7 linked regions of the Homo sapiens genome follow. The protein of the gene in region 3 interacts with the protein of the main gene of each other region in a pairwise test. Each region holds a gene or a part of one and is shown on either strand. Other genes may lie near its edges.

What was found.
Region 1: the proteins of ATXN3 (region 3) and CASP3 interact in binary tests that used the Homo sapiens proteins (3 or more experiments, as listed by UniProt).
Region 2: the proteins of ATXN3 (region 3) and ARFGAP3 interact in binary tests that used the Homo sapiens proteins (3 or more experiments, as listed by UniProt).
Region 4: the proteins of ATXN3 (region 3) and ZHX3 interact in binary tests that used the Homo sapiens proteins (3 or more experiments, as listed by UniProt).
Region 5: the proteins of ATXN3 (region 3) and CCT6A interact in binary tests that used the Homo sapiens proteins (3 or more experiments, as listed by UniProt).
Region 6: the proteins of ATXN3 (region 3) and CREB5 interact in binary tests that used the Homo sapiens proteins (3 or more experiments, as listed by UniProt).
Region 7: the proteins of ATXN3 (region 3) and AKR7A2 interact in binary tests that used the Homo sapiens proteins (3 or more experiments, as listed by UniProt).

The regions. Positions count from the first base shown.
Region 1 is NC_000004.12:184,639,010-184,643,655, reverse strand, and holds part of CASP3 (caspase-3 isoform a preproprotein), read left to right. Parts: intron 1-4,646. UniProt on the Homo sapiens protein: Thiol protease that acts as a major effector caspase involved in the execution phase of apoptosis. Following cleavage and activation by initiator caspases (CASP8, CASP9 and/or CASP10), mediates execution of apoptosis by catalyzing cleavage of many proteins.
Region 2 is NC_000022.11:42,808,270-42,812,915, forward strand, and holds part of ARFGAP3 (ADP-ribosylation factor GTPase-activating protein 3), read right to left. Parts: intron 2,676-4,646; coding exon 2,544-2,675; intron 622-2,543; coding exon 498-621; intron 1-497.
Region 3 is NC_000014.9:92,075,583-92,079,082, forward strand, and holds part of ATXN3 (ataxin-3 reference isoform), read right to left. Parts: intron 1-3,500. UniProt on the Homo sapiens protein: Deubiquitinating enzyme involved in protein homeostasis maintenance, transcription, cytoskeleton regulation, myogenesis and degradation of misfolded chaperone substrates.
Region 4 is NC_000020.11:41,202,248-41,206,893, reverse strand, and holds part of ZHX3 (zinc fingers and homeoboxes protein 3), read left to right. Parts: intron 1-1,827; 5' UTR 1,828-1,977; coding exon 1,978-4,646. UniProt on the Homo sapiens protein: Acts as a transcriptional repressor. Involved in the early stages of mesenchymal stem cell (MSC) osteogenic differentiation. Is a regulator of podocyte gene expression during primary glomerula disease. Binds to promoter DNA.
Region 5 is NC_000007.14:56,054,765-56,058,264, reverse strand, and holds part of CCT6A (T-complex protein 1 subunit zeta), read right to left. Parts: intron 2,901-3,500; exon of another isoform or gene 2,763-2,900; intron 2,642-2,762; coding exon 2,468-2,641; intron 1,955-2,467; coding exon 1,851-1,954; intron 273-1,850; coding exon 162-272; intron 1-161. UniProt on the Homo sapiens protein: Component of the chaperonin-containing T-complex (TRiC), a molecular chaperone complex that assists the folding of actin, tubulin and other proteins upon ATP hydrolysis.
Region 6 is NC_000007.14:28,415,012-28,419,657, forward strand, and holds part of CREB5 (cyclic AMP-responsive element-binding protein 5), read left to right. Parts: intron 1-4,646. UniProt on the Homo sapiens protein: Binds to the cAMP response element and activates transcription.
Region 7 is NC_000001.11:19,305,159-19,309,144, forward strand, and holds part of AKR7A2 (aflatoxin B1 aldehyde reductase member 2), read right to left. Parts: intron 3,485-3,986; coding exon 3,297-3,484; intron 3,105-3,296; coding exon 3,000-3,104; intron 2,253-2,999; coding exon 2,156-2,252; intron 1,944-2,155; coding exon 1,844-1,943; intron 990-1,843; coding exon 860-989; intron 191-859; exon of another isoform or gene 53-190; intron 1-52. UniProt on the Homo sapiens protein: Catalyzes the NADPH-dependent reduction of succinic semialdehyde to gamma-hydroxybutyrate. May have an important role in producing the neuromodulator gamma-hydroxybutyrate (GHB). Has broad substrate specificity.

The sequences.
Region 1 (4,646 bases), on a different chromosome or scaffold from region 3:
GGAGTCTCACTCTGTCGCCCAGGCTGGAGTGCAGTGGCGCGATCTCGGCTCACGGCAAGCTCCACCTCCCGGGTTCACGCCATTCTCCTGCCTCAGCCTCCTGAGTAGCTGGGACTACAGGCACCCACCACCACGCCTGGCTAATTTTTTATATTTTTAGTAGAGACGGGGTTTCACCGTGTTAGCCAGGATGGTCTTGATCTCCCGAACTTGTGATCCGCCCGCCTCGGCCTCCCAAAGTGCTGGGATTACAGGCAAAATTTCTGTTTTCATTTAAGGCAGTGACTATTTCCCTTAGGATGTGATTTTTTTATCCTTCTAAGATGAGATCACCATCCTCAGAATAATTTGTACCCTGCTGGGCACTAGCTAATGGAGGTGATGTCATGCTAAGCAGCACTTCAGTGAGTTTTGCGGGAACCAAAGCTCTGCTCCCAGGAGTGTGGATTTGGTGCTTTCATGTGGAAAAAGCGGATGATGACAAGTAGAGAGCAAATGTGCGCATGTCTGATGCTGTAAGGATTTCATCTACCATCATATAAATTTTTAGAAGTATATCAAAATAAACTGATAACTGAGGCAATGTATGTTGTTCAGATACTAATAATGAAGTTAATGAAGTCCACTATAGTATTTGTATAGTATTTGTATATTACAGTACTCTGAAAAGCTGGTCACTATTTAAAGTTTCCATTACCAGTCACAAGGAGAGAATAATTTTATCCCACAATTTTATTGCTGGCAAAAGACACAAGTTTATTAAAAGTCAGTATTTCAGTGTAAGAGTTACTAGACTGTTTGCAGAAGTGTTCAAAAGAGATCTTTAGGTCCTTGGTTGTCTGTGGAAGCTGATCAGCATTTAGGGGTTCCTGAGCACAGACTGTGAACCCTGCATTTGGCACATGCATTCAGAGAGCCAATTTGAGGCAGACTGGGGGCTAGAAAGGATACTGCCAGGAGCTCCAGGTTCAGCTTCCGAAGTTATTAAGTCTTATTTCCCAGTTTTTAAATTAGACTTCATTTTTTAGAGCAGTTTTAGGTTCAAACCAAAATTGAGAAGAACGTACAGAGACATCCTGTATCCCACCTGCCCCCCAACACGTGCGTAGTCTCCCCCATTATCAACATCCTGCACCAGAGTAGTACATTCTTACAAAGGAACCTACACTGACACGTCATCATCACCCAAACGCCATCGTTCACAATCAAGTTCACTCTTGGTGCTGTTTATCCTATGGTTTTGGACAAATTTACAAGGACTTGTATCCACCATTATATTGTCACACTGAGTAGTTTCACTGCCTTAAAAAGTCTCCGTGCGGGCCGGGCACGGTGGCTCACGCCTGTAATCCCAGCACTTTGGGAGGCCAAGGCGGGCAGATCACGAGGTTAGGAGTTCGAGACCAGCCTGGCCAACATGGTGAAACCCCGTCTCTACTAAAAATACAAAAATTAGCCTGGCATGGTGGCATGCGCCTGTAATCCCAGCTACTCAGGAGGCTGAGGCAGGAGAATCGCTTGAAACCTAAAGGCGGAGGTTGCAGTGAGCCGAGACCACGCCACTGCACTCCAGCCTGAGCAAGGAGCGAAATTCCATCTCAAAACAAAAAAAAAAAAAAAAAAAAATTCTCTGTGCTGTCTCCCTCCCTCCTAGCCACTGGCAACCACTGATCTTTTTACTGTCTCCATAGTTTTGCCTTTTCCAGATTGTCAGATAGTTGGAATCATGCGGTATATATGGCCTTTTCAAACTGGCTTCTTTCACTTAGTAATAATGCATTTAAAGTGTTCATGGCTTGCTAGCTCATTTCTTTTTAGTGCTCAGTAATATTCTGTTCTCTGGATATACCACGGTTTATTTATTCATTCACCGACTGAAGGACATCTTAGTTGCTTCTAGTTTTGACAGTTATGAATAAAACTGCTATAAACATCTGTGTGCAGGCTTTTGTGTGAACATAAGTTTTCAACTCCTTTGGGTAAATACCAAAGAGTGCGTATTTACCATATGGCTGGATCATATGGTAAGAGTATGTTTAGTTTTGTAGGAAACTGCCAAACTGTCTTTCGAGTTGGCTGTACCATTTTGCATTTCCACGAGCAGTGATTGAGAATCCCTGTTGCTCCACATCCTCACCAGCATTTGGTGTTGATGGTGTTCTGGTTTTGGCCATTCTGCTAGGTATGTAATGATACCTCATTGTTGCTTTAATTAGCATTTCCCATTATTTGCAGTCTGTGTATCTTTGATGAGGCCCACTGGATTTTCACTTTAGATTTTCTATAGATTGGCCATAAAGTCTTGAAACAAAGATATTTTCTCATGGATTATAATGCAATATCAGTAAACTATTATGTGTTCACCTACGTTTCCAGACTTGTTAGCTACCCTGTACTGTTCTCTCAGTTAATCAAGTTAACCACAATTTGTTTCTCAACCACAGGTGGCTAATGATTTTGTATGTGGTCTGTCCGCTTTGAATTGATGTGCATGGGGCAAGTTGGTCTCTATGATATTCATGGTTCAAGGAAGTTCGAGATTTCCTGGTACCTAATACATGTTTATTGTACATATGAAAGAAAAAAGGGCAGATAGAGGGGAACATGGTACTGAGCATGATAGAGGCAAGGAAGGGTGGCTACTTTGATAGGAGAATACCCCTATTTTTGTCACTCTTGAAACAGGGCCAAGAGTTGAAATTGGCTAGAACAATCCTGACCTTTGTTGATATTATTTTATAGAATAATATTTGTTACTGTTTTCTCACTTTTAAAAAATGCAGATGTTATAGAAAAATTAGAAGATATAGAGGAATGTTAAGGAGTAAATAAGGTGTCAGTAATGCCATCACCCAGACAGCCACTGTTAATAAATATGTTAATATGTGAAGACATACTAATATGTAATATGTACTGAGTGACTAATGGCAGGTCACTTAGTAGCTGTCTCGATTATCAGATCAACTGTCATGGTATGGCAGTGTTTATGTTCAGGTACCCGTATTAGTTATTGTTGTTAATCCCTTTCTGCGCCCAAGTTATAAACTAAACTTTTTCATAGGTATGTACGTATAGGAAAAAATATGCTGCATATAGGCTCAGTACTGTATTTGGTTTCAAGCATCTACTGGGGGACTTGGGAGGTACCCCCTGCCCCTGCCCCACAGGTATACTACTGTATAATTATTCTTCTATCTAAAGTAAGATCTAATGGAAGATAGGAACTTTGTCTTGTCTTCCACTCTGTCCTATTTCCCAGGATGATACCTGGCACAAAGTATTTGTTTACTGACAAACTAAAAGATGATTTATCCCAATTATACTCACATCTTCCCTTGATTTTCCAGAAAGCCTACAGGAAGTAAGATGGTAGAAAAGCAAAGTCTTCGTAGAAATGCAGAGCATAGACTGGCTCTTGGAGAAGGTCAAACATCACCCTCTCCTGTGGTTAAATTGAGATGGTGGCACTGGCTGTCTTCTATATTATTGCTGCACCTTTCCTCACCAGGGGTGCACACAAAACTGGGAGAGAGGGGAGGAAGGAGCTTAGCTTTGTCTTAATAGAAGGGAAGAAATGATGTTTTCCAAGAGACCTTGAAATTGGGGACCTTGGTAAAGGTTTCAGTTTGGGAAGATAAAAAAGTCCTGGGATGGATTCCAACAGTGTAACTGTACTCAATGCCACTGAGCTGTACGCTTAAGAGTGGTAAATTTTATGTCTATTTCACCACAGTTTTAAAGATTAAAATTTTTAAAAGTGGGGGAAGTTACCTAGGACTTTCTAGAAGGACTTTTGAGGGTGAGCAAGTTCTGTTATAGGCTTGTGTATTATTTTGGTATTTCTGATTTTATCATAGGAGTGAGGTTAAAGTTGTATTTTGACTGGAATTTTTGACATTGTCAGGGTTTCTAGAGTGTGGAGAAGGTCACTCAGTATTTTTTGTTTTTGTTTTTTGTTTTGCCTTTGTTCTTGTTTTCCTCTATTTAGGGAGGTGGATTGCCATGGGAAGTACCTTTGCTTCGAAAAGCCAGAAAATGCCTGGTAGAACTCCAGAAAAGTAGTAAGGAGCTGGCTTCTTCAGAGGCAGCATAGCAGAGTGGGAAGAGGGCCCTGTCACTTAGATTGTGACTGTCGACAAAGTCACTTAACCACCAGAAGTTGGGTTTTCTGACGTTTAGAATTTTGAAAAGATTAAAACTGAGTGCCTTGCAAAGTACCTGGTATATATTAAGTGCTCAATAAGTGATAGTTGCTTTGATTCTAAGAACTGGTTCACCTTGTGAGATATAATTGTGTAATGGAAGAATGAAAGCAGAAACTTTAGTTTCTACTTTTACATTTCCTGGGCCATTTTACTACCCTAAATGAGAAGCTGGGCTTCCAAAACCCACTTTAAAAGTAAAGACTAGGCCGGGTGCGGTGGCTCTTGCCTGTAATCCCAGCACTTTAGGAGGCCTAGGTGGGCAGATCACTTGAACTCAGGAGTTTGAGACCAGCCTGGGCAATACAGCGAGACCGTATGTCTACAAAAAATACAAAAATTAGCCAGACATGGTGGTGCATGCCTGTAATCCCAGCTACTCGGGAGGCTGAGGCGGGAGAATTTGAGTCCAGGAGATCGAAGCTGCAGTGAGCCGTGATTGCG
Region 2 (4,646 bases), on a different chromosome or scaffold from region 3:
CGGCCGTATTCCCAGCTACTTGGGAGGCTGAGGCAGGAAAATCGCTTAAACTTGGGAGGCGGAGGTTGCAGTAAGCTGAAATCATGCCACTGCACTCCAGCCTGGGTGACAGAAGGAGGCTCCGTCTCAAAAAAAAAAAAAGAAACATATCTATGTGCTTCATTTCACTATGTTTAAAAGTTATTAAGTAAATTACAGCTGCACCAACAATTGAAATATATTCAAAAGATACTGGATAATGGCTATTCAAAACACCAAGAGAGGAATAAGACAACTGTGAGATAAGTCCTTGTCTTGTAAACATTCCTCTTGCTGAGGTAGCAAGCACATGATCAGTTATACAGACCTGGGTTCAAGTCCTGACTCCAGCACTTTCAGGCCAGAGGGCATCTGGCAGCCTGAGCCCAGCTCACTCAGGATCTCCTCCCCGACAATGCCCACACCCACACTTCCTTCCTGCATTATGGGGCACCCAAAGAAACTCTCTGGACCCTTACATCAGCCTGGGATTGTCTTCCAAAATACATATCTGATGAAATGGCCTTGACATTGCCAAACTTCTTCTGGGCCTCATCTGTATTTTCAACTGGCTCATAATCTGGCTTGCGGCGAGCAGTAGGTCTGCAATTAAAAACAGCCAAATTAGGTTAAACTAATTTGAGGTGAAGCAAATGTGTTTCATACTCATTTTATTTTTTAAAATGCCAACAGCAGTAAATTTTGTAAAAGGATTTTAGGCTGTTTTTAAAAGCCTGAAAATTCTAATTAAAAAAAAAAGAATAAATACCCAAACGATACAAAATTTGAAGGAATTTCTGTTTAAAACGGGGTCTGTTATTTCACATTTCAGTTCAAATATGTTATATCACATTTCAGATCAACTGGGTAAACACTGAATACATTGTTTGGAATGTCCATAGGACACTGCTCTCTCTACATTGTATAGGTTATAAAATGTCCCAGTTACCTGGGACAATTTCAAGTCACACCTGTTGTCCCAACATATTAGTAGTACCCCCTTGCACTCTCAGAAGTCCTCTGGTTGGAAAATAAATTCATTCATAATCACCAAAAACTGGAGACAGCCCTTCAGCAGGTGAATGGATAAACTTGGCAAGTAAGAGGAATGAATACAAGAATGAATGAGTCTTCCCCAAGTGTACTAAGACAAGTTAAACCAGAGTAGGAAGGCCAATTGCTACATGACTCCATTTATATGATATCTGGGAAAGGCAAAATTGTAAGGCCAGAAAACAGACCTGGGGTGACCAGGGGCCAGGGGCAGGGGAGGGGGGACTACAAAGGGCATGGGGAAAATTTGGGGGTGATGGGAACTGTTCTGTTTCTTGGTTTTGGTGGTAATTACATGAATGTATGTGCTTGTCAGAACTGTAAGTTTAAAAAGATGAATTTTACTATATGTAAATAATACCTTAAAATTGGGGGAAAAAAGGCCGGGTGCGGTGGCTCACGCCTGTAATCCCAGCACTGTGGGAGGCCAAGACGGGTGGATCATGAGGTCAGGAGATCGAGACCATCCTTGCTAACATGGTGAAACCCCGTCTCTATTAAAAATACAAAAGAATTAGCCAGGCGTGGTGGCGGGCGCCTGTAGTCCCAGCTACTCGGGAGGCTGAGGCAGGAGAATGGTGTGAACCCAGGAGGCGGAGCTTGCAGTGAGCTGAGATTGCACCACTGCACTCCAGCCTGGGTGACAGAGCAAGACTCCATCTTAAAAAAAAAAAAAAAAAAAAAAAAATTGGGGAAAAAGGTGAAACCTTCCTGACCTAGGCCACCCCTGACCCATGGATCAGAATCTTCAGGGAAGAGGACTCCACACACACATTTCTTTCAAGGTCCACAGAGGATTCTGATGTGCACTTCCTATTTAGAATCAGTAATTTAAAATCAAAACAGGCTGGGCACGGTGGCTCACACCTGTAATCCCAGCAGTTTGGGAGGCCGAGGCAGGCGGATCATTTGAGGTCAGGAGTTTGAGACCAGCCTGGCTGGTGAGGCAACCGTCTCTACTAAAAGTACAAAAATTAGCCTGGCATGATGGTGTGCACCGGTAGTCTCAGCTACTCGGGAGGCTGAGGCAGGAGAATCGCTTGAACCTGGGAGACGGAGGCTGCAGTAAGCTGAGATTGCACCACTGCACTCCAGCCTGGGCAACAGAGTGAGACTCTGTCTCAAAAATAAAACAAAACAAAACAAAAAAACAAAATCAAAACAATATTCCTGAAATAGTAGAACAAAATCATTTACTAGTCTTACAAAAGGTTTCAAAAGGTTTTCCTTTTTGAGGGGGACTTACTCTGTTGACCAGGCTAGAGTACACTGGCGTGATCATAGCTCACTGCAGCCTTGTACTCCTGGGCTCAAGTGATCCTTTGACCTCGGCCTCTTAAAGTGCTGGGATTATGGGAATGAGCCGCCGTGCCCAGCCCCTTACAAGGGTTTTCATGTCATCATGTTATCAGCAATTTTTTCCCAGAAATGCATGGATTCACTACTACAACCCCACAGTTTTGCATTCATACCTGTCTGAATAGCCTGTGGTTTTCAGAACTGTTTCAGTATCTTTGCTGGTCTCTTTTTTCCAATAGGAATCTGAACTGTCATCCCAGCTAGAGAAAGAACTGCTCCTTAACTCCACTGGCTCGTCAAAGTAACTGTAGGAGCAAGAGTACAACAGTGACTTTGGAGGTCCTTGTTGACACTCGTCCTGGGCTCTCTCACTTCCACAGATGTGGGGGATGCCTCCTTGAAGTTAATGGCAGTCACATAACTAGGTCTAGCCAATGAGACAGGAGCAGACACGAGGTGTGTCATTTCCAAGGCCTTTCAAGTACCTGTGTTCAACCTTGCCCAGTCCTCTCTTCCCAAGCTACATGGAAGAGATTGTGTTCCAGGTGCTACAGTCTCAGGTAGGTGAAACCTCCATCAGTCTGGACAATCAAGATGACACATGGAGGACAGGTACTCTAGAGAACCACCTGAACCCTTAGCTGACTTTATGTGAAAAAGAAATCAATTGTCATTGTGTTCAGCCCTTGAGATCTGGGGGATGTTTATAACCTTAGTATAACTTGGCCTATCCAGACAACACAGGGCATCTTTAAATGTTATCTACCACAGGTTACACATTTCACTGTCTTTAGGTCTCATTCCGCCTGGTTAGGCAATCACAAATAACACTGCTGGGCCTAGAGAACTGACTCCATACAAGGAGCTTCTTGTTGGCAATCCCTTCCGTGTTAAGCACATTCAATGAAAATGATGTAAATGATGCTCATTAACCTCCTCCTGGAGTTGGATACAAAGCTATGGATCATGATCACTGGACCATTCTGGGGATAGTCTTTCAGCCTGGAGCCTGCAGTAAACTTGATCTGATTTGCAAGCATCCCAGGAGAGCCTGGCCTTCAGATCAGTTTACACTTTAATTAGCCAATTGTCACTGAGCAGGGCATTGCTCAGAGAGCAGCACTCAGTGTTGGCTTTTGGTCCTGTGTGATTAGAGAAAAATCTTTGACCAAGAGCAGCAAGGTCTGCCTGGAACAGGAGAGACTGACAGGCGAGGTGGATGTGCCAAAACCTTGAGAAAAAGTGACCATCAACCAGCCAGGCACGGTGGCTCACACCTGTAATCCCAGCACTTTGGGAGGCCAAGGCAGGTGGATTGCTTGAGCCTGGGAGTTCCAGACCAGCCTGGGCAACATGGCAAAGCCCCATCTCTACAAAAAATGCAAAATAAAAAATAAATAAACAAATAAAATAACCGTTTCCTGACCATCTCCGGGGATTAAAAGAAAAAATTAATGGGGCATGGTGGCACGCCTATAGTCCCAGCTACTTGGGAGGCTCACCTAAGCCTGGGAGGCCGAGACTGCAGTGAGCCATGATCATGCCACTACACTCCAGCCTGGGTGACAGAGTGGGATACTGTCTCAAAAAAAAAAAAAAAAAAAAAAAGGGACTGTGCCATGCCAGAATTCACGATAGCTTAGGATGGAAAAGCAGTCTGGCCAGATATACACACCTCATTAAGGCAGTCCAAGAAGTTCAGAGGAGAGAGGCAGATCCCAGGGAGGTCTTAGGAAAGGAAGGGTGACAGAAGAGAATGCAGAGGCCTTAACAGACATCATCCAGGTTTTCTCCAGAGAGTAAGGACAGGAAGCACACTGGAAATAAGATGAGCACCAAGCTCCGTGCTATAAGGAGTTGCACAGAAGATGCAGATCATAGGAGGTCAGAGGGGCCAGTAACCAAAGGCCAATATAAGAGGGAAGCAAGAACCCATAAGAGCAAAGAGGCCAGGGACCTCGGTGAGCTAAGATCTGGGTGGGGGAAATGCTAAGAACACATTTACTCTTTCTTGGCAGAAAACAAAACGAAACAAAAAAGGGACAGAGGATAAACTGCTGTTGGAGCAGATGGTATGATATTACATCCTTAATAGACAGAAAGTAGAATTTCTAAATGTGGCTTCTGCCTTCTCTGGCAAGAAGGTCATTAAGAACAAATCTCATGACACTAGCATCTACTCCTTAGGAAGGAAAACGTGGTGTTCAAAGTGTATCTGGATTTCAGCTAGAAACCGACCAGGCTCTCCCTATGGCGGATGAGTGGATCTGTACTGC
Region 3 (3,500 bases):
ATACTCAAAAAGGGAAAAGAAAAACTAGAAAATCGTATGAATAACAAATCAGCACCAGGGTCAATTTGGGAAGGGTGAGAGGGAAGAAAGAGTTAGCTTGATAACCTTAGACCCAAGCTCCCAAAGACAGAACCTAGAGAGACAACGAACTACCTAGGCTAAGTAATCAGGAATTTTAGTGAAAGGCAAATATTAGCTTCTTAGCTCCTACTAATGAGCTCTACAAGGTTTTGAATGCAAGCCATTGTTAAAAATGAACATCAAGAAGTTAGTTCTTAACTCTTCTCAGCAACATGTGACTATGTAAGATATTCTCAAGCTCTTTCCAAATTCTCACCAGTATTTGCAAAGTCAAGCCAAGAGGCTGAAGCTGGTAACCATCACTGCACACTTTCCTCCTCAATCAATCCTCCACCAAGTAGGAAGGAGGTATATCGATATTCGAACATTTTTAAAAGGGTACAAGGTTGCCTGACCCTGTTTACTAAAAAGCACTAGTTATTGCTGACATTGTACTTGTTATAACTTACTTAGTCATTATTGGACATTACTGAATTATCGTTACTACTATAAAAAGTTCAGGCCGAGTGCAGTGGCTCATGCCTGTAATCCCAGCATGTTGGGAGACCCAGGCTGGCAGATTGCCTGAGATCAGGAGTTCGAGACCAGTCTGGCCAACATGGTGAAACCCCCTCTCTACTAAAAATACAAAAAAATTAGCCCGACGTGGTGGCATGCGCCTGTAATCCCAGCTACTTGGGAGGCTGAGGCAGGGGAATTGCTTGAACCAGGGAGGTGGAGGTTGCAGTGAGCCGAGATCGCGCCACTGCACTCCAGACTGGGTGACAAAAGCGAGACCTCGTCTCAAAAAAGAAAAAAAAAAAAAAAAAAGCTCAATTTGTTGGAAGTTTCATATTTTTAATCCAGTTTTTAAAAAATTTTAAGTAAAAGAGCAGTTTATTTTTATGCTTTAAATATACTTTTCTTTTCTTAGATATACCTGTAAATTTTGTATTATAGTTTCTCTATGATGTATGTCTTTAGACCATTTTATTTTGACAAAAAAGACTCTGATGGCTGGGCGCGGTGGTGCACGCCTGTAATCCCAGAACTTTGGGAGGCCGAGGTAGGCAGATTGCCTGAGCTCAGGAGTTCGAAACCAGCCTGGGCAACATGGTGAAACCCCATGTCTACAAAAGACACAAAAATTAGCCAGGCATGGAGGCACTTGCCTGTAACCGCAGCTACTTGGGAGGCTGAGGCAGAATAATCGCTTAAACTCAGGAGGCGGAGGTTGCAGTGAGCCGAGATCATGCCACTACACTCCAGCCTGGGTGACAGAGTGAGATTTCGTCTCAAAAAAAAAAAAAAAAAAAAGTCTGAAATAAACATGGTGAAAGTATCACATGGGAATTATTCTGGAAAGCAATTTAGAAATCTGTTCCAAGGCCTTAAAAATGTTCATATCCTTTAACCCAATAATCTGACATCCTCAGAAAAACTAGAAGAAATGATAAGACATTTGAGGTGTAGAGGCAATATAAGAATTGTTCATTGCAATATTAATTATAATAGCAGAATTCAAAAGGCTCACATATAAATTATGCCACATCCATTCATTTTATGAAATATCATGCAGCCTGTTACAAAGACTATTTACTGTCATAGGAAATGAGTACAACACTTACAAGGTAAGTGTGTATATGTCACAGAAAAAGAATGTGCCAAAATACTAACATCAGTCACTGAAGGAGGTGAGAGTATGCTTTCTTTTTTTTTTTTGAGACAGAGCCTCGCTCTGTCGCCCAGACTGGAGTGCAGTGGTGTGATCTCTGCTCACTGCAAGCTCCACCTCCCGGGTTCATGCCATTCTCCTGCCTCAGCCTCCAGAGTAGCTGGGACTACAGGTGCCTGCCACCACACCCAGCTAATTTTTGTGTATTTTTTAGTAGAGACGGGGTTTCACTGTATTAGCCAGGATGGTCTCCATCTCCTGACTTCGTAATCTGCCTGCCTCGGCCTCCCAAAGTGCTGGGATTGCAGGCATGAACTACCGCGCCCAGCCTTTTTTTTTTCTTTTTGAGACAGTATCTCGCTCTGTCACCCAGGATAGAGTGCAGTGGCACAATCTCGGCTCACTGCAACCTCCACCTCTGGGTTCAAACGATTCTCCTGCCTCAGCCTCCAAAGTAGCTGTGATTACAGGTGTGCACCACCATGCCCAACTAATTTTTTTGTATTTTTAGTAGAGACAGGCTTTCGCCATGTTGGCCAGGTTGGTCTTGAACTCATGGCCTCAAGTGATCTGCCTGCCTCAGCCTCCCAAAGTGCTGGGATTACAGACATGAGCCACTACGCCTGGCCATGTATGCTTTAATTTCTATATTTCTTTTCTCTTTTTTTTTTTTTTGAGGCGGAGTTTCACTCTGTCACCCAGGCTGGAGTGCAGTGGGGTGATCTCAGCTCACTGCAACCTCTACCTCCTGGGTTCAAGCGATTCTTCTGTCTCAGCCTCCTGAGTAGCTGGGATTACAGGTGCCCATCATCATGCCTGGCTAATTTTTGTATTTTTAGTGGAGACAGGGTTTCGCCATGTTGGCCAGGCTGGTCTTGTACTCCTGACCCTCCTGACCTCAGGTGATCCGCCCACCTCAGCCTTCCAAAGTGCAGGGATTAGAGGCGTGAGCCACCGTGCCCAGCCAATTTTGATATTTCTTAAAATAAAATTTTTAGAATGTTAGTTTTTCTAATTAAGTAGATTTAAGTTATTTTTTATTATTTATTTATTTATTTATTTGAGATGGAGTTTCACTCTTTTTGCCCAGGCTAGAGTGCAATGGCACGATCTCGGCTCACCGCAACCTCGCCTCCCGGGTTCAAGTGATTCTCCTGCCTCAGCCTCTCAAGTAGCTGGGATTACAAGCATGCGCCACCACGCCTGGCTAATTTTTTGTATTTTTAGTAGAGATGGGGTTTCTCCATGTTGGTCAGGCTGGTCTTGAACTCCTGATCTCAGGTGATCTGCCCACCTCAGCCTCCCAAAGTGCTGGGATTACAGGTGTGAGCCACCGCGCCTGGCCTTAGATTTATTTTTTACATTAACTAGATAATTGATGATATAGAATTACAATTAATTATTATGATTATTATTTTATGACAATAGCATTTAACTATGTTAAAAATAAAGCTAATATATTTTAGAGACACATATTAAAATGGTTATAGAATAATATGATGATTGAGATTTGTTACAAAATAATCCAAACTTGCAGGTGGGACAGTGGAAAGAATGGGAGATGGGAGTATTATAAAACGAGATTGGGCCGGGCTCAGTGGCTCATGCCTGTAATCCCAGCACTCTGGGAGGCCGAGGCAGGTGGATCACTTGAGGTCAGGAGTTTAAGGCCAGCCTGGACGACATGGTGAAATCCCGTGTCTACTAAAAATACAAGAATTAGCCAGGCATGGTGGTGTGTACCTGTAATCCCAGCTACTTGGGA
Region 4 (4,646 bases), on a different chromosome or scaffold from region 3:
GGCTGCCCTTAACATTTTTTCCTTCATTTCAACTTTGGTGAATCTGACAATTAATGTGTTTTGGAGTTGCTCTTCTCGAGGAGTATCTTTATGTTGTTCTCTGTATTTCTGAATTTTAATGTTGGCCTGCCTTGCTAGGTTGGGGAAGTTCTCCTGGATAATATCCTGAAGAGTGTTTTCCAACTTGGTTCCATTCTCCCTGTCATTTTCAGGTACACCAATCAGACGTAGATTTGTTCTTTTCACATAGTCCCATATTTCTTGGAGGCTTTGTTCGTTTCTTTTTTCTCTTTTCTCTCTAAACTTCTCGCTTCATTTCATTAATTTGATCTTCAATCACTGATACTCTTTCTTCCACTTGATCAAATCGGCTACTGAAGCTTGTGCATGCGTCATGTAGTTCTCATGCCATGGTTTTCAGCTCTATCAGGTCATTTAAGGTCTTCTCTACACTGTTCATTCTAGTTAGCTATTCATCTAATCTTTTTTCAAGGTTTTTAGCTTCTTTGTGATGGCTTCGAGCATCCTCCTTTAGCTCAGAGAAGTTTGTTATTACTGATCGTCTGAAGCCCTCTTCTCTCAACTCATCAAAGCCATTCTCCATCCAGCTTTATTCCATTGCAGGTGAGGAGCTGCGTTCCTTTGGAGGAGAAGAGGCACTCTGATTTTTAGAATTTTCAGCTTTTCTGCTCTGGTTTCTCCCCATCTTTGTGGTTTTATCTACCTTTGGTCTTTGATGATGGTGGCGTCCAGATGGGGTTTTGGTGTGGATGTCCTTTCTGTTTGTTAGTTTTCCTTCTAACAGTCAGGACCCTCAGATGCAGGTCTGTTGGAGTTTTCTGGAGGTCCACTCCAGACCCTGTTTGCCTGGGTATCACCAATGGAGGCTGCAGAACAGCAAATACTGCAGAACGGCAGATGTTGCTGTCTGATCCTCCCTCTGGAAGCTTCATCTCAGAGGGGCACCCAGCTGTATGAGGTGTCAGTCGGCCCCTACTGGGAGGTGCCTCCCAGTTAGGCTACTCAGGGGTCAGGGACCCACTTGGGGAGGCAGTCCAACTGTTCTCAGATCTCAAGGTGAGACCACCCTTTGAGTGGTCGTACACAGAAAATGTATAGCTTGCTGGGCCACAAACTGGTTCTGTGGATTCCCTGACCCTCTGACCTTTGGTTTCATCTCAGTAACAGTGGTCCGGGATACATAACAGCCAGTAACTGTAAGGTGATCGCTTTTCTGTGGCCTGGAATAAGTGCGGCAGGCAAGGAAAGGCTACAGAGGCCTGGCTCTTACAGCAGCCGGTCTTCCTAGCCACCCCCGCCCACCCCACCCCTTCCGTTCACACACTGCAGCTAACTTGGTCCCTGGGCCTGGCTTGGGACAGACAGAGGCGTCATCTTGTTCTCATATGCGGGAAGGCTATGAAAAGAAAACCGCGTGTTGGTCCAAAATGTAAACAAGAATTACACTAGGATCTTTTGTTCTCACTCTGACATGGTCAGAATTAATTTGGAGGTCCAAAAAGAGGGCGTTTTGTTTTTTAATCTGAATTACTTAATGCAGGGATATGTAGGGGGTGGTGGGGAAGAAACAAAAATACGTTGCTTAAGTCTATCAGTTGGTATTGGACCATCCCCAGGTCATTCTTCAGGGTCCAGTTTTTGTCATTAGGGGGTTCCTAACTTAGACTTCATATCCAAGTTGCTGATTAAACTTACTGTGAAAAGACCTAGATGGTAGAAGGCAAGCAGTGGAATGTGTCTGGGTATCCGAGAAATATACAGAAAGCACTTAAGAGAACTTAATCATTTTTTTCTCCCTTTCCTTAGATTGAATAGGGAAAACCTGCTTTCTGCAAACAACTGAAAAAGCTGCATTTAGAAACTGTTTCTTTGGCCCTCATCGAGAAGCTGGAACTTGTATTGTTAGGCCCCTTATGGGACAAGCTCTCAACTGCTGATCACCCAGTGATTGTCACCATGGCCAGCAAGAGGAAATCCACCACACCATGCATGATCCCAGTGAAGACTGTGGTGTTGCAAGATGCCAGCATGGAGGCCCAGCCCGCTGAGACCTTGCCTGAAGGACCCCAGCAGGATCTGCCCCCAGAAGCATCTGCTGCCAGCAGTGAGGCAGCACAGAACCCCAGCAGTACTGATGGCTCTACACTGGCCAATGGGCATCGGAGCACTTTAGATGGCTATTTATATTCCTGTAAATACTGCGATTTCAGATCCCATGACATGACCCAATTTGTGGGACATATGAACTCAGAGCACACAGACTTTAATAAAGACCCAACCTTTGTATGCAGTGGGTGCAGTTTTCTGGCAAAAACCCCTGAGGGGCTTTCCTTGCACAATGCCACATGTCACTCCGGGGAAGCCAGCTTTGTGTGGAACGTGGCCAAGCCAGACAATCATGTGGTTGTGGAGCAGAGCATCCCTGAGAGCACCAGCACTCCTGACCTAGCGGGTGAGCCCAGTGCTGAAGGGGCTGATGGACAGGCAGAAATCATCATTACCAAAACTCCAATCATGAAGATAATGAAAGGCAAAGCTGAAGCCAAAAAAATTCATACACTCAAGGAGAATGTCCCTAGCCAGCCTGTGGGTGAGGCCTTACCAAAGCTGTCGACTGGAGAAATGGAGGTGAGAGAGGGGGACCATTCCTTCATCAATGGGGCAGTTCCAGTCAGCCAGGCATCTGCCAGCTCTGCAAAAAACCCCCATGCCGCCAACGGGCCCCTGATAGGAACAGTGCCAGTTTTGCCAGCTGGCATAGCACAGTTCCTCTCCCTCCAGCAGCAGCCCCCAGTGCATGCCCAACACCATGTCCACCAGCCACTGCCCACGGCCAAGGCCCTTCCCAAAGTGATGATCCCCCTGAGCAGCATTCCAACGTACAATGCAGCCATGGACTCTAACAGCTTCCTGAAGAACTCCTTCCACAAGTTCCCCTACCCCACCAAAGCCGAGCTCTGCTATTTGACTGTGGTGACCAAGTATCCAGAAGAACAGCTCAAGATCTGGTTCACAGCCCAAAGGCTGAAGCAGGGGATCAGCTGGTCCCCTGAGGAGATTGAGGATGCCCGGAAAAAGATGTTCAATACAGTCATCCAGTCTGTGCCTCAGCCCACAATTACGGTTCTAAATACCCCACTCGTCGCCAGTGCTGGCAATGTCCAGCATCTCATCCAGGCCGCTCTTCCAGGTCACGTTGTGGGGCAGCCAGAGGGTACAGGAGGGGGACTTCTGGTCACTCAGCCATTGATGGCCAATGGGTTGCAAGCAACAAGTTCCCCTCTCCCCCTCACGGTGACATCCGTCCCCAAGCAGCCAGGTGTGGCACCCATTAACACTGTGTGTTCAAATACAACGTCAGCTGTGAAGGTGGTCAATGCGGCCCAGTCGCTCCTCACGGCCTGCCCCAGCATAACCTCCCAAGCCTTCCTTGATGCTAGCATCTACAAAAATAAGAAATCTCATGAACAGCTGTCAGCTCTGAAAGGGAGCTTCTGTCGGAACCAGTTCCCAGGGCAGAGCGAAGTTGAACATCTCACAAAAGTGACGGGCCTCAGTACCAGAGAGGTGCGGAAATGGTTCAGTGATCGTAGATACCACTGCCGGAACTTGAAGGGCTCCAGAGCGATGATACCTGGAGATCACAGTTCCATCATCATTGACTCTGTGCCAGAGGTGTCCTTCTCCCCATCGTCCAAGGTCCCTGAGGTAACCTGCATTCCGACAACAGCCACACTAGCAACCCACCCTTCTGCCAAACGACAATCTTGGCACCAGACTCCTGACTTCACACCAACCAAATACAAGGAGAGAGCCCCTGAGCAGCTCAGAGCCCTGGAGAGCAGTTTTGCACAAAACCCTCTTCCTCTTGATGAGGAACTGGACCGCCTGAGAAGTGAAACCAAAATGACCCGACGAGAAATTGATAGCTGGTTTTCAGAGAGACGGAAAAAAGTGAATGCTGAGGAGACCAAGAAGGCTGAGGAGAATGCCTCTCAGGAGGAAGAGGAGGCTGCTGAGGATGAGGGTGGAGAAGAGGATTTGGCCAGTGAGCTAAGGGTCTCTGGTGAAAATGGCTCTCTGGAAATGCCCAGCAGCCATATCTTGGCAGAGCGCAAAGTCAGCCCCATTAAAATCAACCTGAAGAACCTGAGGGTCACTGAAGCCAATGGCAGGAACGAGATTCCAGGGCTGGGTGCCTGTGACCCTGAGGATGATGAGTCAAACAAACTGGCAGAGCAGCTCCCAGGCAAAGTGAGCTGCAAAAAGACTGCCCAGCAGCGGCACTTGCTGCGGCAGCTCTTTGTCCAGACACAGTGGCCAAGCAACCAGGACTATGACTCCATCATGGCCCAGACGGGTCTGCCACGGCCAGAGGTGGTGCGCTGGTTTGGAGATAGCAGGTACGCACTGAAGAACGGCCAACTCAAATGGTACGAAGACTATAAGCGAGGCAACTTCCCACCAGGGCTACTGGTCATTGCCCCTGGCAACCGGGAGCTCCTGCAGGACTATTACATGACACACAAGATGCTGTATGAAGAGGACCTGCAGAACCTCTGTGACAAGACCCAGATGAGCTCCCAGCAGGTCAAGCAGTGGTTTGCTGAGAAAATGGGGGAGGA
Region 5 (3,500 bases), on a different chromosome or scaffold from region 3:
CAATCCTGCCCCTTATGCATCTTCAGAGACTGTTTCCTATAGCTCCCCCAAACCAATTTGAGCATTATTGTCCTTACAGTGGGAAACAAAGTTTCACAAAAAAGTAACTCGCCTAAAATACGAAGCTTCTCCATTTCACTGTTAAGGGGCTATAAACTTACGTTTTCTCATACTCTAATGACACGTTACAAGTGAGGATGTATGCATCCTCCACCCTTTTCTTCATATCAGGATGCCGTGCTCCGTGGTCCAAAACAAGCCCTCTGATTAAGCTGTTTAAACACACACAAAATTATGGTTATTGATTTTCAGATGGGTATTTAATATATTAAACACTGAAATGAGAAGGTATTGATATTTCACGCAGTCACATTTTTCTTTTTTGAGATGAAGTCTCGCTCTGTTGCCCAGGATGGAGTGTAGTGGTGCCATCTTGGCTCACCGCAAGCTCCACCTCCTGGGTTCACACCATTCTCCTACCTCAGCCTCTCAAGCAGCTGGGACTACAGGCACCCACAACCATGCCCAGCTAATTCTTTTGTATTTTTAGTAGAGACGGGGTTTCACCGTGTTAGCCAGGATGGTTTCGATCTCCTGATCTCGTGATCCGCCCGCCTTGGCCTCCCAAAGTGCTGGGATTACAGGCATGAGCCACTGCGCCCGGCCTATTTCTTAAATTACCTGAAGATCCTACGCTGTACAGAAAAGTCTGCAGAGATGGTCTCACTGGTAGGCTGTCAAACTGTGATGACGTCCTTTAAAAACATGTTTTCTACCAAGCACCTGTAATCCCAGCACTTACGGAGGCAGAAGTGAGAGGACACCTTAATCCCAGGAATTTAAAACCAGCCTGGGCAACATAGGGAGACTCCATTCTCCACACAGACACACACACACACACACCCCAAAGGGAAAACAAACATGTTTTCTAACTAACTCTTTGAAAAAAATATTTTTTTAAATTCCTCTACTACTTCTCATTATGCTTTGTACCTAGCAATTCAATAAATGCCAAATGACTGATGTTGTTCACTTTTCAGAATCATTCTAACCATAAACATAACATTCACCTTATTTCAGGAGAAAATATTACTAAAAACAATATTCTCCTAGCAGTTTATCCAACTTATATCTTCAGGTAAATATATAACATTTTATATCCAAAGATATTTTTAAAATTGCCATCTCACGCCTGTAATCCCAGCACTTTGGGAGGCCGAGGTGGGCGGATCACGAGGTCAGGAGATCGAGATCATCCTGGTTAACATGGTGAAACCCCGTCTCTACTAAAAATACAAAAATTATCCGGGCATGGTGGCGGGCGCCTGTAGTCCCAGCTACTCGGGAGGCTGAGGCAGGAGAATGGTGTGAACCCGGGAGGCAGAGCTTGCAGTGAGCCGAGATCATGCCACTGTACACTCCAGGCTGGGCGACAGAGCAAGACTCCATCTCAAAAAAAAAAAAAGCCAACTATCTATATTGTACAAAGCACCCCTAAATTTCTAAACACAGTTTATTTTTTGTTTTTGTTTTTTTTTTAATGGGACGGGGTTTCGCTCTTGTCACCCAGGCTGGAGTGCAATGGTGTGGTCTCAGCTCACTGCAACCTCCGCCTCCCAGGTTCAAGCTATTCTGCTGCCTCAGCCTCCCGAGTAGCTGGGATTACAGTCATGCCCGGCACGCCTGGTTAATTTTTGTAATTTTAATAGAGACGGGGTTTCCCCATGTTGGCCAGGCTGGTCTGGAACTCCTGACCTGAGGTGATTTGCCCACCACAGCCTCCCAAAGTGCTGGGATTACAGGTGTGAGCCTCCATGCCCATTAGTATTTCACAGTCTTCTACCACCTACCTTGTATCAGTTTCAGATTTATGTTTCATCTCCATGATCTCAATCATGAAGAGATCAATAGGTTCATCTTGCTTTTTAATGGCCAAAATGGAGTCCACTACAGCCTGCAATTGGAGGAGCATAACCGTTAAGTAAATTCAATTTGCAGCAGAAACATGTTGCTTTTCAGAAGGCTAAAGTAGGCAGTTTCATTTTACAATTCTACACTGATTTAAGTCTTTTTCTATCAGCAAATAGAATACATTATATGTAAAAGGCAACAGCTGAAGTCATTTACATTTCTGAAATCTCCATCTATAATTCCCAAACATTAACATTAATTAACATTAACATTCCTCGTTTTATTAAAAATACTGGTAACTGGAAGCTTTCTAATAAAAAAATCTCCACTTTATAAACCTTTTAATGAAAGCTTCAATTTTACTTTTATAACCTGGTTAGGTATACTATTATTTTAATTTCCTCATTTTTAGAGACACAGATTAGGTATCATTGCCACAAAAATGAACCTACACAGCACCTTGTAATTGAAATTGGTAATCATATTCATGTTTCTACTATCAGAGATTTTCTATATAGGTATACTATACCAGACATAGACAAAATTTAATACATACCTCTGTTAAGACATCTGCAAGTTCAGCATGAACTTTAGTACGAAGAGATGTTCTGGCCACATCTATAAGTGTTTCCCTGTCCATCTCTCTGCTTACTTTGACTTCTTCCAAAAACTGAAGGGCCTTTTCCTTTGCAGCTTCAAATCCTTCAGTGATTATTCTAGGATGAAGGCCCTAAAATAAACACACATTAACACTTGCATCTTCAATTAGGTGCAACCATAGTTCATGATAAAGTTCAGGTAATTATTGAAGGAGTGTTCTGGATCATCATACCTTTGAACACGAGGTAATATAATGTGCTGGCTTTCTGAATACATTTAAAAGGACAAATATTCCTTTCAATGCAGAGCAGATGAACAGGTAATGAATGCTCTAGCACAGGGTCAAAGCCAAGGGAACTATAAAGCACACTTGGGTGTTCACTGTGCAAACCACTCTGAATCATTTCAAAACCAACACTGTGTCCCAACAACTCACAGATGGTAGCATTATCCTATCTTTATTTTCTTTCATTTTTTTTGAGATGGAGTTTCGCACTTGTTACCCAGGCTGGAGTACAATGGCACAATCTCGACTCACCACAACCTCCACCTCCTGGGTTCAAGCAATTCTCCTGCCTCAGCTTCCCAAGTAGCTGGGATTACAGGCATGCACCACCACGCCTGGCTAATTTTTGTATTTTTAGTAGACACGGGGTTTCTCCATGTTGGTCAGACTGGTCTCGAACTCCCAACCTCAGGTGATCCGCCCACCTCGGCCTCTCAAAGTGCTGGGATTATGGGCGTGAGCCACTGCGCCTGGACTATTCTATCCTTTCTATAGGTAATCTCAAACTAACTCACATCATTTACTAATAAAAATAAAGACTGTTCTCTTTCTCCAGGAAATTCTGACAATACATTCATATTCACTGAGGTTTGCTTTAACCTTGGAACTAGTCAGGGCTAAAAAAGTGGAATTTATCCAAATATAAGCTTTTGGTTGCCTTTTTCCTAACAAATATGCCTAGTCCTAAACATTCCATTTTTAG
Region 6 (4,646 bases), on a different chromosome or scaffold from region 3:
AGAAATAGATCAGAATCAGTTTATCACTTTAAAAATATGTATTTCAGCTGCTTTCTTCTATTTCCTTAAGGTTACATTTCTGATCTTAACCCTAAAAAGATTTTAGGATTTCAATCCTTAACAAGGATTGAAAACTACCAGGCTGGCGTTTGACTAGAACTGATTTTAGAGGGAGTTCTTTTAGGCCTAGAGATTCTGATGGTGAGTTACAAAGGCTTATGGCTTTACACGGATGGTAGGGCTAGGGGAGGGCCTCGGATTGATAGACCAATTTTTCATTTTACAGAAGAGACCCCTGGCTCACCCAAGGCCCAGAGCTAGAGAGAGCCAAACCAGGCTGAGAAGCCTGGTCCCTGCCTCCAGGTCGGGTGCTCCTGCCATAAATGCCCTTGTCAGGAATGGGGCATAACCTATGACTTTGTATCCTTCACTCTTTTCAAGCCTTTTGATGACTAATCTTTCAAAGACAAATTTTTATCAGATCTTTGGAATGAACACCTTAATCATAAAAACTGTAGTTTCTATTTCATTCATTCTTATATAATATCTGCAATGTTATTTTTTCTAATAAGGGCCTCCTTAATTAATTTTAACTTAAATTCTCCTTTTTTCATCATTGTTATGAGACATACCCTGTAAAACCACACCATCCAGATTTCATTTGAGAGTAAAAACCAGGCAGGACTAAAAATGGTCTGAAAGACTGTCTCAAGAACAAGGCAGTGACTTTCTCTACTACCTGTCTTTTCTCTATTATCTGTGAGGACGGGATCTGAAATATTATTTAAAGTTAAAATAAATAACCTTTTTTGTCAAATAGAGAAACGGGTGATGTTTTCACTCTAGAAGGTGTACCTTTGCCTAGGATCTGTCTGTAATACATTATCTTTCCAGATGGATATATATGAGTGTGTTTGGAGGTGACGAGAAGTGAATTGAGTCTGGAAGTATGTTCTTTGAGGTTTGACTGGCAAAACTTGACCAATCATAACCAAAAAAATTCATGCATGCAACACAGAGGGCTCTAGAGCACCACACATTTGATTTAAGATGATATTTAGTCTGTGCTGTATTTAAGATGGGGAATAACAATGTCTAAATAGAAATCCTGAATGCACCTACTGCATGTGTTGTTTGGCCTCACCCACAGGTTTCCTCTCCAGCTGTTTGCATGCGATTTTATATCAGAATTCAGGTCTCTTTTTATTCTTTTATTACACTGAGGAGCTCCTGTGTTGCAGGCATGATTTCTCCAATAGAACACATTTCAGCCAGTTTTATGCAGTCCTCTCTCTGTTGGCTTCCTAAGGGGGAAAAATACATGCAACAACAACAACAACAAAATTTTTGTTTTTGTTTGAATTAGCTGACTATTAGAAGAAATACATGTAATCTCTATTTGCCAGATCTGGTAGGACCATTTCACTTTATCAAAACAAGATCTTCTCCTTTAAGTAAGTTGGCTTCTGACTGGCCAGGTATTAATTCATGCATCAGACAGTAGAAGGCATTGGGATAAAGTCCGTTTCCACCAGGGTATCTAGCTATGGTGTGGTGCACCATCATGAAGGGTCTGATTTGCCTCACTGCAATGACAACATTGTGCAGAAAAACACTGACTCCTAGGAGGAGAAACAATATTATAGGCTCAAGCTTCTAAAATCATATCAGGGAATGATCCTGTGTCGAAGGTGACTGTCAGAACGCTGGGGGCCTCCAGGGTCATTTTCTAAACTACAGCATGACAAAATGTTCTCTTTGTCTATTCTCTGCATTTTCCTTCAGGTAGTGTTTCCCTAGATTCATTCTTTAACATCCATTTCAACTACTCTGCCTTGATGAATAATCCTGCAGTAACAAGTCACAAATGTGTACACAGCAGAGCAGAGATATTTTTCCATAAGGAAAATAGATTTTTATATCAAATCTTAGAAGAAACAATTAGCAAAACAAAAGGGGGGAAGAAGAGTTGAAATTAGATTGATGGCATAACAAGCTCTGTCCATTCGTGGCTCTGCAACAATGAGCAGCCTGAGACTGGAGGAGGGACGCAATTCCCAGAGAGCTGCCTTGAGCTTATTGTGCTTCTCTGCCTCAGTTTCTTCATTTGTGATGAGAATGTCGGGCTCACCCAGCACTGTCCGGTAGTGAGAGCTGCAAATGTGAGCTGCACATTTCATTTTAAACGTTTTAGTAGCCACATTAAAAAGGTTAAAAAGAAACAGGTGAAGTCATTTTAATAACACTTTGATTTAACCTGATATATCCAAAATATTATCATTTAAACATATAATCCATATAAAAATGTTAATGTACTACTTTACATTCTCTCTTTCTCTCTCTTTTTTTTTTTTTGGTACTAAATCTTTGAAATCCAGTGTGTATTTCACAACTACAACATATCTCAATTTGGACTAGCCACATTTCAAGTGCTCAATATCCACGTGTGGTCGGTGACTATGGTATCAGACAACACAGGGTAAATCAGTGGTTTATGATCCTGGCAGCCCAGTAGTACCACCTGTGGAACTTATTAAAAAACACTGATACCCTTCCACTCTGACATTCTGATTTAATTGGTTTGGGGTGAAGGCCTGAGCCTCTGTATATTTTAAAAGCTCCACAAGTGTTTCCAATGTGTAGCAGAGGTTGAGAACCACGGTTCTAACTGATCTCTAAGGAATCTTCTACTCTAATATTCTATGATTCTATTTCAGGAAAGGGATTGCAGTAAAGCGTTCATTCAGAGTTCAAGGGCAGCAAGCAGTTGTTACAAGCATGCTGCACCCTGCAACACATATTTAAGAAAATATAACTGATAAAGATTAAAATTTACAGAATGAATAACTTAGACAATAATTCTTTGCACCACAAATGGGCTCTGTTTTGTGTAACTTTCAAACGTGGGTGTTTTAAATGGTCTGCTTCACTAGAAATCTTAATTTAGGATTTGATTTACATGTAACCTCGTAGAAACCCTCTGTTTCGGAAAAGGTCAGGATTCTCACATTTCAGTTACAGTATTTTGCCAGCTTACTCTTTTGCCCCAGATACTTGCCTTTAGTTGTTTGGGGAGGGAAATTTTTACTCCAGTTGAGACATCTGGATCCCCCAGAATTTTCTTCCTTCCAAGCTTTTAACAAACTTGTGTTATTGCCTAGACCAGATTTTCTCATGTCAAGATGTTAGTTATAACCTCCTAGACTTAAGGTATTCATTTTTATTTGTCACCTTTTAAAATATTAGAAGAATCAATGTTTTTCAATGCACATCAGAATGCTTTATTTTAATATACCTGTTTTTTATAATACACCAGTCTGTGCATTCACTAAAGGATGCAAAAAGTATAAAATAAAAAATAATTTCCAAACTCCTCACGCACCTTCTTGTGAAGTCTACAGACAGAATTGTTTGTGGAGGGGAGGAGAGACCTTGGTGTCAGCCTCTTGTGACTTCATGCTGCAGAGAGCCTCTGCATCCCCAAATTCATGAGTCATTTCACTCTGACCCTCTCTCTCCTTATCCCCTGCAGAGCCATCTATGTCCAAATACATGTCTATTCAACCATATCGCCTTTAAAGCATGACTATAAACTAGTTTTAAATATAAAATTACATGTTTTTCTACATTTTGTGGTGATATTTGTGTTTTCTGTAATGTCATTCATTGGAAGAATGTTAGCTTTCATTTATTAACACATATCTCTAATCCCCATTTTATAGATGGGAAAACTAAGAGATTGCCAAGGCTAGGCATCCTGCTCATTGATTAGATGGGTGGTCGGTATGAGAAAAGAGCTCACATTTATTAGTGCCATGTATTCCAGATATTCCAGATAGAAGCACTGCTTTGGGTTGCTTCCAGGTAGGGATTTTCCAATTGCTTGTACTATTGCGCTTGTCTTTGTATTTATAAATAACATTCTTTCGGGTGCTTTCCCATGCATTATTTGCAGTTAAATGGTTTCCTTGCTAATACCTCTTACTTTCCAGCTTCAGGCTACATGTAGCTGGATTGATTAGTAAATACATAAGGATATATTAACTTCTTAACATGGAATCTGTTTTAAAAGTTGCATGGAGACATCTGTTGCAAACCTGTGTGTTTGGTAGTATCCAGGGAAACTTTCTCTCAGGCTACTTTGTGATTGACTGTTAAAAGTATTGTGTGGAGAGACAATGAGATTAATGATGTAAGTTACTCATCTGTTTTGGGGATTGAAGGCAAAGGTCTGTACAGATTCATTTGTTGAGCAAGATAGACTCTAGCCCTACCTCCTAAATTATCTTTTATAAAACACTTTAGCCCTTGTCGTGCCAATGTACTGTCTTCACACTTGGTCTGGAGCCATCTGTGTTTAAGTATTTGGTTTTTGTTTTCTCCTAACAATGGTGATACGTTGGCTTGGCCATTTGCAGTCTCTGTCTGCATTTCTGTGTCTTTGATGGGTGAGCTGTTGATTAATAGTGCAATTTTCGACCAGTGCCAGGGGGCGATTATTTTGGATTCTTTCCTCCAAGCATCATGCTAAATTTAAAGCAATTTTAATATTCATACATATACATGCTTATGGTGTTTATGCTTATATGAAAATAAATATGTATATAAATAAAAACCTGGGCCAGTGAGGACCAGAATGTTAGTAG
Region 7 (3,986 bases), on a different chromosome or scaffold from region 3:
TATATGTGCTGTCGATGCAGGCATGACATTCAATCTTTTTCTCTGTTTTCAGCATTGGAATGAGAAAACTTATGTAAAACACAGCTCCCACGTACTGAACATCTACCGGATATATGCCAGACACTATGCAACATGGAAGGCTGAAGCTGGAGATAAGTTTGTTGCTGTTATTTTCATTGTTGTTTGCTTGTTTTTTTTAGACAGGGTCTTGCTTTGTCACCCAGGCTAAGGTGCAGTGGTGTAATCTCAGCTCACTGCAGCCTTGACCTCCCAGGCTCAAGCCATCTTCCCATCCCAGCCTCCAGAGTAGCTGGGAACGTAGGAGCAAGCCATCACAACCTGGCTAATGTTTTTGATTTGTTGTAGAGATAGGGTCCCATTTTCTTGCCCAGGCTAGACTCAAATGCTTGAGATCAAGCAATCCTCCCATCTCGGCCTCCCAAAGTGCTGGATTACAGGTGTGGGTCACTGCCACTGATCAGGAAATAAGTTTTAACCAGGAAGACATGAGGCATCAAGAGAGAGAAACCAAAAGGGTGAGATGGGTGGGTCTTAGTTAAACCTGTGTTAAAATGTCTGCCACTTTAATAGCTGGGTGAACCTCGGTTTCCTCATCAATAACACTGGGATAATCATACTTCAGAAAGCCTAAGGAATAAGAAAATCCCTGTAATGAAAATCCCTCACTACAAAGCCTCCACTCAGATACCATCAAAGACCAGTGGGAAGAGTGCTTATGAGAATTGGAAGAAAGAAAAATTTCAGAGGAATTCAGAAATCAAATGCTTTGGGCTTCACCTAAAGGTGACGCTGGTCCCCCTGGAAGGGAAGAAGCTGAGCACCCAGGGTCGCTGGTTACCTGCAGCTGTGAGTGGTGGTACATCCACCGGAGGGCAGCCGAGGTCACACTGGGGGCGCTGGCGCCATATGCGGCCTGCAGGGCCTTCTCCACCAACGCAATGGCCTCGAAGTGGTGCTCCTTCCAGAAGCTGTGCAGAGGGGATGTTAGCACAGGGGTCAGTACCATGGGGGTCACACTGGGAGCCGCAACCAAATAGCCATCCAGGACCACTGCCCCACCCCACACCCTGCAGCCCTGAGGGGCGGGTGTCCTCTCTAGTCATAGGTCTCCCACTTTGCTGGGCATCAGAACCACCCAGGATGCTGGGCCCCTCAGCAGAGACCTCAATGGATCTTTACTCCTGAGGACTCAGTAGCCTAGGGACTTCCCTAGGGACACGAAGGCTGCTCAGATGGGGCAGGATTCCCTCCTGGGCTCTCTTTTTGCTTTTTGATACATGGTCTTACTCTGTTGCCTACACTGGAGTGCAGTGGCATCATTATGGCTCACTGCAGCCTCAACCTCTTAGACTCAAGTAATCCTCCTGCCTCAGCCTTCCAAGTAGCTGGGCTACAGACAGGTGTGCACCACCACACCTGACCACTTTTTTGCATTTTTTTTTTGTAGAGACCATGTTGCCCAGGCTGGTCTTGAACTCATGAGCTCAAGTAACCCTCCCACTTCGGTGTCCCAAAGTGCTGGGATTACAGGTGTGAGCCACCATGCCTGGCCCATCCTGGGCTCGCTTTTTGCTTCCCAGCAGGTGATTGCTCAGGAACGAGCTATGACTTCAAGACCCCAACATCCAGGGATCCTCATTTCCCCCCCAGAGGTCTCAAGACAACAAGAAAACCCACAGAGGGCTTGGGAATTCCTGAAGCAATGCAGGGGAGGAGATGCAAACAGCAAAGGAAGGTCTTACCTCAGGAACAGCCCAGGACTTCATTCCACATAGATTTGACCCCACCCCAGCCATCCTCACCAAGCCCACCCCCGGCTCACCGATTCCTGTAGGTCTCAGCCCAGCTATTCCCAAAGAAGCGGCCCACAGGCTGTTTCCCGTCCTTGTCCTCATACTTGTACTTGCCAGTCAGCAGGCCCCCTGCGGGAAGGCAGCAATCAGCCCCTGGCCCCAGAGTGCCCCAGAAGCTGCCACATCCCTCAGGGCTCTGGTCTAGGGGAGGGGCAGGGACCCAGGAGGGGCTGAAGAACACAGCCCAGCCTCTTGTCAAACCCTCCCTGCTTCATAAATTCTGGGCTGGGCATCTGTGGGTCAGGAATAGGCTGAGACAGGGTCAGGAATGCTCCACGTACCAGCCAGAGGGTTGTAGGCATAGAACCTCAGTCCAAAGTGCCTGAGGCAGGGGAAGAGCTCCGTTTCCACCTGCCGGGTGGTGGCGTTGTACATGCCCTGCAGGGAGAGGGACCCCGGGGACAGGGTGGACATGTCAAGAGAAGGAACTGTTGCCTTCCACTTTCAAACCTCTAAAGCAACACCGGCCCAGGACTTCAGCAATATTCTAACATCACTACTGTTAGTAGGGGATGGAGGGAAGGTGTTGGGCCCAAGGACAGAAAATTGAAGTGGAATGGTATCTTTCCACAAATATCTGCTGTATGAACTCCATGCTGGACACTGGTTACAACCACAAGTAGGTATCACAAAATCCCTGCTTCCAGGAGATGTTTACTCAAGTTTAAAAAAATAGACAAGGAAGGCAGTTAATTACAATAAAGTTAGGTTCTACAATCAAACAAGGAGCTGGAAAGTACTCGCTGAATGTATGAAGATGAGATTTGGAGACTGGAGACTCCTATGGGGCTGTCTAGAAAGGCTTCCAGAGGAGGAGACCTCTATGTAAGGCCTGAGTGCTTCTCCCAGGGAGGAGGGCAGGGGAAATGTGTTCCAGGCTGAAGTATGAAAGGAGGTGGGGAAGGAAGGGTCCAAGGTGCACAGATAGGCAGGAAGGAAGCAGATGCCCAGTGGCCAGGCTGAGGAGCTTGAATGGCATCCTGAGGGTACATGGGAGCCATCTGCAGGCTTTCAGCAGGGGAGTGGCTGCTATGCAGACGGCACAGGGGGCAGTCAGGGGGGCAAAGAGAGCCCAGGATTAGCAGGAGTCCTGGAGACCTTGGCCTCTGCAGCCCCGGCCCTCACCTGGTACACAGTGGGCAGGATCCAGCCATTGCTCTTGCAGAGGGTACAGATCTCGGCCACTTCCCAGCTAGCATAGTTGGAGAGGCCAAGCTCCACGAACTTGCCCTGCATGGGTGAGGCTCCAGTCAGAACGCAGTGTAGCCCAGACCAGGAAGGGGAGGCCAGGGTGGGGCCCCAGGGAATGGGGCTATTCCCTGCCCCACCCTGGGACTGCCCTGGTGCCTCTGCTCTCATGAGTAGGATCAGGATAAAGAAAGGAGCAGGAGCCCACCTTTGGAGCTCGGAGGGCCCCCTCACCTCCTGGTGCAGCCGCTGGCAGGCATGCAGCGTCTCTTCCACCGGGGTGCCGTGGTCAGGTGCGTGTAGGTAGAAGAGGTCCACTTGGGGACACTGCAGCCTCTTCAATGACGTCTCCAGCTGGGACCGGACACTGTCAGGCTTTAGTGATTTTCCATCCCAAGGGTTGGCCTTGGTGGCAATTTTCACTTGGAGAGAGAATGGAATGGTTAAGTGACCTATTAGAGCCATTTGCTAACCATGTAACCCTGGCTAAATTACTAATATTCTCTTGGCCTCAATTGTATGATCTGTAAAATGGGGTGATAATAATCAAACTGTCCTCATTGGGAGGTCCTGGGGATTAAATAATGTCATATATGTGAGTTCTCAATGTTCACCTATTAGAATAACTATCATTAGTCACCAACCTGCTGGCTGTGCCAGGCCTTGCACTAGAGACTGAGTATGCAGAGATGAACTGAACACAATGGATCTCTGCCCTCCTGGAGCCCTAGAGGATGATGGTACAATATGGTAAGCACAGGAGGGAAAGGCACACGATGCCAAGGAGCCCAGATGAGATGCATGAAGCCAACTTGGAGACTCCAGGGAAGGCTTTCTCTAGGGGATCACTCCCAGAGTCCCAGCCAACAAGGAAGAGCAGGAAGTACACTCCAGAGCATGGGAACCCATGCAAAGTCAAAGAGG